2 separate regions of the Homo sapiens genome follow, and region 2 is linked to region 1. Evidence: fine-mapped expression QTL. A gene starts in region 1. The other region holds a variant in brackets. All regions are shown on one strand. Distances are between the middles of the regions. Region 1 holds the start of BRICD5 (BRICHOS domain containing 5). Region 2 holds the start of DNASE1L2 (deoxyribonuclease 1 like 2).

Evidence for each region. PIP is the estimated chance that this variant, and not a neighbour inherited with it, causes the effect.
Region 2: its variant is the best candidate, but not a certain one, in a credible set for the expression of BRICD5 in cerebellum (GTEx, PIP 0.60).

The regions. Positions count from the first base shown.
Region 1 is chr16:2,208,031-2,213,387 of GRCh38, reverse strand. It overlaps BRICD5 (BRICHOS domain containing 5), which reads left to right and starts at 2,525. Exons shown (of 6, transcript NM_182563.4): 1 at 2,525-2,605; 2 at 2,738-2,866; 3 at 3,107-3,262; 4 at 3,337-3,438; 5 at 3,682-3,835; 6 at 3,932-4,135. The coding sequence starts at 2,555. The coding sequence ends at 4,026. MLST8 (MTOR associated protein MLST8) reads right to left here. Exons shown (of 9, transcript NM_022372.6): 7 at 5,054-5,178; 8 at 4,775-4,938; 9 at 3,935-4,629. The coding sequence ends at 4,511. It overlaps PGP (phosphoglycolate phosphatase), which reads left to right. Exons shown (of 2, transcript NM_001042371.3): 2 at 1-1,795. RefSeq lists enhancers at 13-826, 646-940, 827-1,640 and a silencer at 3,080-3,270.
Region 2 is chr16:2,236,321-2,241,677 of GRCh38, reverse strand. It overlaps DNASE1L2 (deoxyribonuclease 1 like 2), which reads right to left and starts at 5,234. Exons shown (of 7, transcript NM_001374.3): 1 at 5,118-5,234; 2 at 4,718-4,900; 3 at 4,552-4,640; 4 at 4,377-4,460; 5 at 4,029-4,302; 6 at 3,660-3,911; 7 at 2,967-3,316. The coding sequence starts at 4,861. The coding sequence ends at 3,260. ECI1 (enoyl-CoA delta isomerase 1) reads left to right here. Exons shown (of 7, transcript NM_001919.4): 7 at 1,533-2,276. The coding sequence ends at 1,699. It overlaps ECI1-AS1 (ECI1 antisense RNA 1), which reads right to left and starts at 1,134. Exons shown (of 2, transcript NR_186393.1): 1 at 588-1,134; 2 at 1-43. The variant A/C (reference allele first, on the strand shown) is at 2,224.

The DNA.
Region 1 (5,357 bases):
TGTATTTTATTGAAAAACTCATTCAGGGATCCAGCCCCTCAGGGGGCAGAGGGACTGATTATTCTGACTGTTGGGAGAGGCTTGCATGGACCAGAGCCCCATCAGTATGACTGAAAGTCCAGCGGAGCCTTCTGTGTCCCTGTGCCTCCCAGCAGGGTGGGAGTGGAGGAGGCGGCTGCTCCCAGGTGGCATCTCCCTGCCCTTGGGTGCAAAGTGCTGCCCTCACCACTCTCCCACCTCCCTTACTTCCTTGAAAACCACTCTGATGTCACAACTGAGTGTCTGTTCCGTTTCAGATACCCAGGGCTGCTGCCCAGTTCTGTAAACGCAGCCCAGCTAAAGCTCTGCTGTCTCAAGTGTGCATTTATACCCAGGTGATTTGGACGGAGCAGCTACCATGGCGTGGACGCCTTCACTGAACTCCGGGCTGCAGTGCAGGGAGCTCAGAGCAGTGCTGCTACCAGTTTTTAACTTTGAACAACTGTGTCAGGCAATGGATTTGAATTTTAAGTGTATTAATAGCTGTGCTCTGTGTCGTAGGCAAAATTCCACTGAAGGAGCCTCTGTGCCCTGCAGCCGGCAGCGCGGCTGAAGCATGTGTTGGCCAAGGAATGCCTGTCATCCAGGTGCCCTGCAGCCAGCAGCGCGGCTCAAGCATGTGTTGGCCAAGGAATGCCTGTCAGTCATCCAGGGCTCTGGGAGGGGACGAGAGTTATGTCCCCAAGAACAGGAAGTCCTTTACAAAGCATCCAGTCTCTTCCTGTCCTCCCCTTCCCTAGGCTGGGGTAGGGGTTAGAGACTGGTGGCCCAGGAGGTCACCTGCCTTGCCCTGGATTCCCTCTTCAGTGGCCAGCAGGACTTGGCAGGGCCACCAGCTCGCCAAGGTTCTGGGCGGGGCTCCAGCCTCTCCTGCCTGCTCCTTGGCTCTGCTGACCTTTCACAGGCCTGACAGCAGACTCAGCAGGGCCATCCCGGGATGCTGCACCTTCTGGCTGGCTCCCTACCAGCGCCTTTCCCTGTACCTGGCAGCTTCTCTCTTGGCCCCACAGTCACAGCACTCCACTTGGTCACAAAGACTTCAGAGCAATAAGAGGCGTCCTGAGCCTTCAGCACCTCCCAGGCCTGGGATATCGGGTTCAGAGGGTGCTGCAGAGCAGCATGAGGGTGGCTCCACCCATGAGGCTGGTGACACTGACGCTGGCTTGGCTAAGTTGGCTCAAGCCGGGTCTGGCCTGACAGGGTGCAGTCACACCAGGAGCGCATGGCAGATGCAGCCTCAGTGATGCCTCTCTTGCCGGGTAGGGGCTGGGAGTCCCCGTGCATCCTGTCTCTGGCCCATGAGGGGCTGCAGCACTGTGGGCGCCAGAGCACAGATTAAACTCTCAAACCCACACTGGCTCAGGTGTCCTTGCTCTCACCTTGCATTGGCCCGGGTGATGCCGTCTCACCACGGGTGGGAGGACTCAAAGTAGATGGGTAACTGGGGTTCCAACTCCAGAGCTGGAATGCCAACTGCCCACTCCCAGCCTGGTTCAGAGGAAGATGTTTTGAAGAATGAGGGAAAGCCAGGCACAAAGGGAAGCCAGGGAAGCAAAGGGCCCTGGAGTGAAGCTGGTGGGCTGCCGTGTCAGAGCGCCCAGGGCAGGGAGCAGAGCTCAGAAGTAATGCTGGCCCGGGCGCAGTGGCTCACACCCGTAATCCCAACGCTTTGGAAGGCTGAGGCAGGTGGATTACTTGAGATCAGGAGTTCAAGACCAGCCTGGCCAAAATGGTGAAAACCCATCTCTACTAAAAATACAAAAATTAGCGGGACTTGGTGGCATGTATCTGTAATCCCAGCTACTAGGGAGGCTGAGGCATGAGAATTGTGTGAACCCGGGAGGCAGAGGTTGCAGTGAGCTGAGATCACGCCACTGCACTCCAGCCTGGGGGACACAGCGAGACTCCGTCTCAAAAAAAAAAAAGTTGGGCTAGGCGGGCCCCCGAGGCTGGCCTGACTGTCCCAGGGGCACAGGCTCCAGCAGGCTGCCTGTCTGTGGTCCAGGCTTCAGGAACCCCCGGTCTTGGGTGTGCGGGGGCTGGGAAGTGGCTGGGGGTGCACAGTCCCACACCTGTCATTCACTGAACAGGCACGTATTGACAGCTTGTGGCGTGTCAGGCCCTGTGCCCAACTCTGGGAGTCAAGGATAACCTGACAGACTCAGGCCACTTTAGGAAAACGAAATCCACCCCAACCACACTTAGCGAGTCACCCTGGCCGGGCCTGGGCTGCCCTCCAGTCGGTCAGCCGGACTGGATTTCCACGCGGCCGAGCCCTACGCCTCCCAGACCCTGAGCTCCAGTCTGCACAGGCCAGGTGTCTGGAGCCGGGCCTGGTGACAGGCATCCCCCAGGTGGGAGGAGGGGCTGTCCTGGCTCTGACCTGGATATCAGATCCAGAGCTGAGGGGGAGGCGCAGGGTCAGGAGGGGAGGGGTTCTGTTCTGAGTTTCCCCTGGCCAAGGCTGCAGACAAGGGACGCAGACAATCGGCACATTGTGAGCAGGGGCTGCAGGATGGAACCAGCAAGCTGCTGTGCTGAGCGCCCCAAACCTGGGCCTACAGGGGTGAGTGCCTCCCGTTACTCCTGCAGCAAGGACCCAGGGGGTGCCCCAGGCCACCCAGCCCCTCCCTTCCCCAGCCCACTTGCTCCCTGATGTCTAACCCTCATGACCCTTCTGACCCTGATGCACGCCCAGGTGAAGACCAAGCCCTCCTGCGGGGGCTGGAGAGCCGTGAGCCTGCTCCTGCTGCTGCTGCTGCTGGTGCTGGCCGCTGTGGGGGTTGTGGCTGGAGGGCTTCTTGGCTCTGCTCAGGGCCCTCCCAAGGTGAGCCCCTCCTCAGCACCAGGGACATGGACAGTGGAAAGGGAGAAGGGAAGCTGGCATATCCCAGCCTCCAGCAGAGCAAGGGTGCGGAGCAGGCAGTGACACCACCTAGGAGCAGACAGCCAGAGGACCAAGGGGTGGAAGGGCCCACTCAGGGGTGTCAGGAGTCCTGCAGCCCAGAGCTGGAGGCTGTGCTGGGGTTGCACAGCTGCCCGGCTGAACTCCAACTCCCACTGCCAGCCAAGGCTGCAGACGCTGCGAATGACCCTCCCGAGCCCCCACATGCCCCGGCCCAACCAAACCATCCTGGTGGACGTGGCCCGGAACGCGGCGACCATCACAGTGACCCCACCTCAGAGCAACCACAGCTGGGCGGTGCTGTTCGACGGGCAGAGCGTGAGTGGGCAGGGAGGGGTCACCCTGGCAGGTGTCGGTCTGGGGGGCCCCGCCTCACCCCCCTGCCTCCCCAGGGCTGCATCTGTTACCGCCCTGAGGAGCACCAGGTCTGCTTCCTCCGCCTGATGGAGGACAGTGATCGGGAGACCCTGCGGCTGCTGGTGGATACCTCCAAGGTGAGCCGTCCTGCTGGGCGCAGGCCCGGGCCAGGGGCTAGACAAAGGGTCCTGTGTGCAGCCCAGTACGGGACAGGCTGGAGCTGTGGTTTCAGGGAACAGGAAGCTCTCTCCGCCCTAAGCCCAGGCTGCTGACAAGAGCTGAGGGTGGGGACATCACTGGGGGTTGGAGGGTACCCGGCCCTGCCAAGCCAGGAGCAGGGAGCAGCCCTGTCCCACCGCCCACCAGAGCCTTCTCAACAGGTCCAAGAGGCTTGGGTCCCCAGCCAGGACACCCACCACACCCAGGAGCTGCTGGCAGTGCAGGGGAGCCTCGAAGTGGACCCCGCCCAGGCGGGGGCTTTGGTGCAGCGCCTGTGCATGAGGACCCCCATCTACTGGGCCCGGCGAGCAGAGGGTGAGTCAGGACCGCTGTGGGGGAAGGCCAGGCCCTCGGGATGGTTTGAGGAGCTGGGGGCGGAGCCCTTGGAGATTCACGGCACCCTCGCCACAGGGCCCCGGAGACAGCGGCTGATTTATCTCTGCATCGACATCTGCTTCCCGAGCAACATCTGCGTGTCGGTCTGCTTTTATTACCTCCCAGACTGAGCCCCCGACCTGGCCCAGCCTGGCCCGTCCCCAATCCAGTGGGCTGGCCAGGCCACCTGCACCAGGGAGGACAGCTGCTGGCAGGGACTAATAAACCCTTCCACCTGGCCATGGTGGTGGTGTTCTCTATGGACCGAGGCCCTGAAACGCGGGCAGGGAGGGGCAGAGAACACACTAGCTTGGGGGTGGGCACCAGCCTCAGACCCCTCAGCAGCTTTGGGCCCTCGGCCGACTTTCCCAGGCAGTGCAGGCTAGCCCAGTCCAGGAGTGTGCAGCCTGGCTTGGGTCGAGCTCTGTCACATCTGGATAAGCAACTGGGGGCTGAGAGTCCCAGGGCAGCCTGGCCCAGCAGGTCAAGGCGCCACAGGGGGCCATCAGGTCCAGCTGGCGCAGGCCGGCAGGGGAGGGTCTGCTCTGACCTGGGTGCTGCATGGGTCCCTCCAGCTGCCACCACCTGCACCAGGCAGTCCCGAGGGGTCACAGGCTAGCCCAGCACACTGTCATTGAAGGCCAGGCAGACAACAGCCTTCTGGTGGCCGCCATACTCTCTCTTGATCTCTCCAGTCTCCACACACCAGAGCCGGGCCAGGTTGTCCGAGGAAGCTGGAGGGGGAGATTGTGCAGGGCTAAGAGCGCAGGTGCAGGCCAAGCAGGCGGCCCCAGCAGAGGGGAAGCTGCAGCCGAGGTGGGCTGGCTCTGGAGGCCAGCGCCGGGGGCCAGGGATGGGGGAGGCCAGGGCGGGGCTCACCAGTGACGATGTACTGGGAGTCCCCCGAGAAGGCGCAGCCCCACATCCAGCCGCGGGAGGACTCCCCGGGGTTGCCGCTCTTGATGCTCAGCTCCGTCATCAGGGAGAAGTTGGACGTCCTCCAGATCTTGCACGTCTGATCAGCCGAGCAGGTGGCGAGGAGCCTAGTGGGTGGGCATGGGGCGTGTCCAGCAGCAGCCACTCCATCCAGCAGCCCCTCCCCTCTCCAGCCCCCAGCCCAGGCAGGTCCCCTCCCGGGCCAGCAGGCCCTGCACGCACGTGGAGTCGGGGCTGAAGCGACACTGCAGGGCGTAGCGCGTGTGGGCAGGGATCTTAGTCTTGGGGATGAGCTGGGTCACCTCGTCACCAATGCCCCCCGTCAGATTCCAGACATAGCAGTTTCCCTAGAGGTCAGGAGGACCGTCACGGAGGGCCCAAGGCCTCAGGTCTGAGACACAGGGAAGGATGCCCTGGGGGCCAACACTGGGGGCCAACTGTGCATGGGGACCCCGGGTGAGGGGCAGGCAGGCCCCTCTGGTCCTGCCTGCAGAAGGCACCTGGGAAGCCTGGCCCCAAGCAAGGG
Region 2 (5,357 bases), 28 kb before region 1:
AATTTGAGTTTCACATAATTTTCACATGTCACAAAATACTAACCTTCTTTTGATTTTCAACTATTCAAAAATGTAAAAACCAGCCCGGCACAGTGGCTGAAGCCTGTAATCCCAGCACTTTGAGAGGCCAAGGTGGGCGGATCACCTGAGGTCAGGAGTTTTAGACCAGCCTGGCCAACATGGCAAAACCCCGTCTCTACTAAAAATACAAAAATTAGCCGGGTGTGGGGGCAGGTACCTGTAATCCCAGCTACTTGGGAAGGCTGAGGCCGGAGAATCACTTGAACCTGGGAGGCGGAGGTTGCAGTGAGCCAAGATCATGCTACTGCGCTCCAGCCAGGACGACAGAGTGAGACTCCTCTCAAAAAAAGTAAAAACTATTCATAGCTTCAGGGCCTTGAGAAGCCAGATTTGCCAACCCTGATACAAATGACTGAAGGCTGTGCTGCCATTTCCTGTGCTGTAAGACAGTATTTAATATAGTGCCATGGAAATTTTTTTATTTTTATTTTATTTATTTTTTTTGAGATGGAGTCTCCCTCTTGCTCAGGCTGGAGTGCAGTGGTGCGATCTCAGCTCACTGCAACCTCCACCTCCTGGGTTCGTGCCATTCTCCTGCCTCAGCCTCCTGCGTCGTGGAAATATTCTTCATAATATAGTTGAGTGAAAATGACACGTTAAGTCGCTGGGCGCGGTGGCTCACACCTGCAATCCCGGCACTTTGGGAGGCCAAGGAGGGTGGATCACCTGAGGTCAGGAGTTCGAGATCAGCCTGACCAACATGGTGAAACCCCTTCTCTACTAAAAATACAAAAATTAGCCGGGCATGGTAATGCTCCTGTAATCCCAGCTACTCAGGAGGCTGAGGCAGGAGAAGTGCTTGAACTTGGGAGGCGGAGGTTGCAGTGAGCCAAGGTCACGCCACTGTAGTCCAGCCTGGGTGGCAGAGACAGACTCCATCTCAAAAATAAATAAATAAATAATACAAAATTAGCCAGGATGTGTGTGCACGCCTGTAGTCCCAGCTACTCAGGAGGCTGAGGTGAGAGGATCACCTGAGCCCAGGGATTCAAGGCTGCAGTGAGTCGTGATCACTAGTGCACTCCAGTATGGGCGACAGAGAATATCCTGTCTCTTTAAAAACAAAACAAAACAAAAAAAAATTAGGGCCGGGCGTGCTGGCTCATGCCTGGAATCCCAGCACTTGGGGAGGCCGAGATGGGTGGATCACCTGAGGTCAGGAGTTCGGGACCAGCCTGGCCAACATGAGGAAATCCCATCTCTACTAAAAATACAAAATTAGCCGGGTGTGGTGGCACACGGTTGTAATCCCAGCTACTCAAGAGGCTGAGGCAGGAGAATCACTTGAACTCGGGAGGCGGAGGTTGCAGTGAGCCAAGATCCCACCATTGCACTCCAGCCTGGGCGACAGAGCAAGACTCCGTCTCAAAAAATAAAAATAAAAAATAAGTTGGGAATCACCCCACTGCCCCTGAAAGTGGGATTTCAGTGGCACGTCCCATTCTCTTTAGACCATGCTCGACAGCTGACCAAGGCCATGATGCGAAAGGCCACGGCCAGCCGCCTGGTCACGCAGCGCGATGCGGACGTGCAGAACTTCGTCAGCTTCATCTCCAAAGACTCCATCCAGAAGTCCCTGCAGATGTACTTAGAGAGGCTCAAAGAAGAAAAAGGCTAACGATTGGGCTGCCACAGGCTTACGGCCACACGTGCCCCTGTGGGTCCCAGGGAGGTCTTAAACAAGGTATTTTTCAACTTAAAAGTACTGCCAGCGTTTCATTTTGCTGATGTTACGTAGAAGTTCCTGTTCCTCATAGCCCAGTGGCCCAAGGCCCAGCCACACACAAACACACATGGGTGCCTGTGCCCGTCAGGCAAGGGGAGTTGGAGGGCAGCCTTTTGACTTGGGATTGTGACTGGCAGGGGATGCCATTCTGGACCTGGTGAGGTTGCCACGGAGTGTCTCTGTTCCCAAGGCAGAATCGTAAGTCAAGTCCCTGGTCATCCATTCTGGCCTTTGGACTGCCTGCTCTTAGGTGTAAGGCCAGGTGGTCTTGGCCCCCATGACCCACACAGAACTCCCCAGGGAAAAGCCCTTTGGTCACTGCCCTTACTCATCAGGATGAAGAGCGCACAGTGAATCAGAGCAACTGGGGGATCCTGAGCCAGCGGGAGTGGGACTCTGGAGGCAGCTGTGCTGCC[A/C]GGGATCCAAATGTCCCTTAAGAAGGATTTTGCAAGAACCAAACTCATCCAAACCCTTGAAACAAAGGTTTTTCCTCCCATGCGATTCAGACCAAGTTACCACATCTTGCTAAGATGTGATGTTTCAAAAACCAGAAACCTCATCGGGCCCCAGTCAGTGACCCAGTGGACCCGTGGGCCTGCCTTTTCCCTATCCTAATGTGTCCTTGCCCAGGCACAGGGCAGCAGCCTTGAAGGGCTGAGCCACGGCGAGCTGGGCGGTTCTTTGCACGGGACCTTAGTCCCAAGCCACCTGCCTGGGCAGGGAGGAGTCCAGCCCGCCCACTGCTCTCAGGCTCTCCAAAAGCTCCAGGGCTGCTGACTAGCTGGGGCTGGCCTCCCCTTGCAGTGCTGGGTAAGACCGGGCTCTTGAGACAGACAAGTGCCTGGGGGCCCCTGCAGGGCCCTGGAATGGGGGCTGCGGGGTGGGCCTGGGGAGAGCTGTTCTGAGAGCCCCGAGGGCCCAGGAGGCTGGTGTGTTGGCGCCATCCCTGTCCCAGCTGTGCTCACAGTACAGGCTCCTGGGAGTGTTTGTAGTTTCCACAGAGGATGAGCAAGGAGCATCCCTGAGCTGCCTTCTGGGGCCAGCAGGCTCCGGGGGCAGCCACGTCCCACCAGGACATGGGGTGGGCAGCCCAGGCCATGGCTGCCCCTAAGGAGCTGAGGCTGGGTCCTAAGGAAGGACAGAGGCCTGGGAGCCAAGCTGTGGGGCCCGACCGGGAGCAGCTCATTTATTGAGCAGACATCTGCCGGGCAGTGCCCCCTGCACCCCTCATGGGGCTCACAACACCCCATGAGGTCGCTGGATGCAGCCCGTCCCACAGATGGGGAACGGAGGTACAGAGCAGCACATCACGTGTCCATGGCCCCTGGTCCACGCCCAGCCGACTCTGCCTTGGGGCCTCACTGAAGGGTGGCTGCCACCCTGAAGGGGCCACTGTTGGGCCATTCCTCAGAGCCAGGGTCTGCAGGTGGCATGCCCCAGCCAGGCCTCGAGTCATCGGTGGAACTTGAGGGTCACCTCCACTGGAAAGTGGTCGCTGATGGCAAGAGCCTGTGGGGACAGAGTGAGCCTCAGGGGAAAAGTGCACCCCACCCACAGGGATGGGAGGGGCCGGTGAGGCCTGGGTGCCCACCCCTGCTGCTGCCTGCGGTGGGGCAGGGGCAGGGGCCGGGGCAGAGGGTGTCACCACTGGCCCTTTGAGGGAAAGGCAAGGTACCCTGCCTGCCCAGAGCTCCACATGGGGTGGGCCGGGCTCTCCAGGGTCCTTGGAAACGAGCCCTGGTGCAGGGAGGAAGCTGAGGTGGCCCTGCCTTGGGCGCTGGACCCTCCCTGCTGCCTGCGTGCGCCCGGGCGGTGGGGACCCAAGACCAGCACCGCCCCACGGCCCACTCGCCTGAGTCTGGTCCAGGCCGAATTCCTCCTGGAAGTCGTGCACGGTGGCCGACTGGGGCTTCAGGCTCCGGCGCAGGCGGGCGCCACAGGCCACAATGCGGTCGTAGGCGCAGTCTGAGTTGCCCACCGTGGTGTCGGCGCTGTCAGGGATGAGCCACTTGAAGACCTCACTGCTCCTCAGACGGATGGCGGCCCAGTCCTGCGCCCGCACATAGCTGCAGTCGGCGTTGAAGTCGCCCAGGAACAGCATGTCCTGCGGGCGCCGCGGAGCCGTGTCTGAGCCGCCGCAGGAGCCGTCGAGGTCCCGCCCTCATGAACCAGACCCCCGGGGCGCGCCTGCAGGGACCCCGGGACCGAGGGGTGGGCTTACGTCGGTGCCCCACTTGTCGATCACGTCCAGGTACACGTCGTAGAGCGCGTCGATCTCCGCCACGGCTTGATGCGGCGCCGCGTGCAGCGGGATCAGCACCAGGTTCTGTGCTGCTGCGGGAAGGGGTGGGGGCGTCAGAGCTCGGCGGGAGGGGAGGGGCGGGGCCCGCTCACCGGTGCCGGGGGCCGAGAACTTGACCACGAAGGGCTCGCGGCTGAAGACGTCCTCGGGGTCTGGGTACAGGTAGGTGTCCACGACCGACACCGCGTCTTTCCTAGGAGATGGGGAGGACCCGCTGAGCCCCCGACCTGCGGCCCCGCGCGCCCCTCCCTGCGGCCCGCCCCTCACCTGTACACGAACAGGTACATCTCCTTGTACTGGTCCCGGCCCAGGGGCTGGCTGCTCACAAAGCTGTACTCGTGCTCGGACACGCTGCGGAGACAGGGGCCCGCTCAGGGTCGGGGCGCCGCGCCGGGGCGAGATCCCGGCGGGGGGTCGCGACGAGGGGCCCTGCCCACCACACCTGTTGATCTGCTCCATGAGCGCGGACACGGCGCTGAGGTCTGGGTCTCGCACCTCCTGCACCAGCGCGAGGTCATAGCCAGCCAGGATCTGGGGAGGAGCGGCGGGTGCGGGGGTCAGCGCGGTCAGCACCCCTAAACGCCGCCCCGCCCCGGCCCGGGCCCCACCTTCGCGATGATGCTGCCGCAAGCGGGGTCCGACACTTTGCTGTCACCGAAGCTCTGAATGTTGAAGGCTCCGATGCGAAGCGCGGCGGTCCCGGCGGCTTCCAGCGCCCAGAGTGCGGCCAGCAGAGCCCGGGGCCCGCCCATGGCGCGGAGCGAGAGGCTGGGAGGGACAGACGCTGCCGCCTACGCAGACCCGCTGTCAGACCCACCGACCCACCCCTTCCCTCCGCGGCCGCCCCTTGACGGCCAGTGCGACGCGGAATCCGCCCCTGCGTTCTGCAGGCTCCCAGGGCACTGCTGGGCTCTCAGGGACCGCTGCCTTCTCACTGCGCGGGAAGCTGCAGCCGGAATGGAGGGTCCGGCCCATCCAGCCCCAGCTCAGGGCAGCCGAGAGACTCACCTTGGATGTGGGTGCAGAGGCCCGAGGCTCAGAGATCCTAGGGGGATGGGGATCCCGGGTCCAGGCTGCGGGCGTGTCCGACACAGGACTGCACTGACTCCCTCTGGCAGTAGCTCTGGCACCAAGGCAGGGGCCGGTATTTGAGGTCCTGGGCCAGGGAGGGGCCGGGCTGCACTGGGTCCCGCCCCCTCGACTCAGCTGGGTGCCTGATGAACTCCTGGCTTTCATTCCCATGGAGAC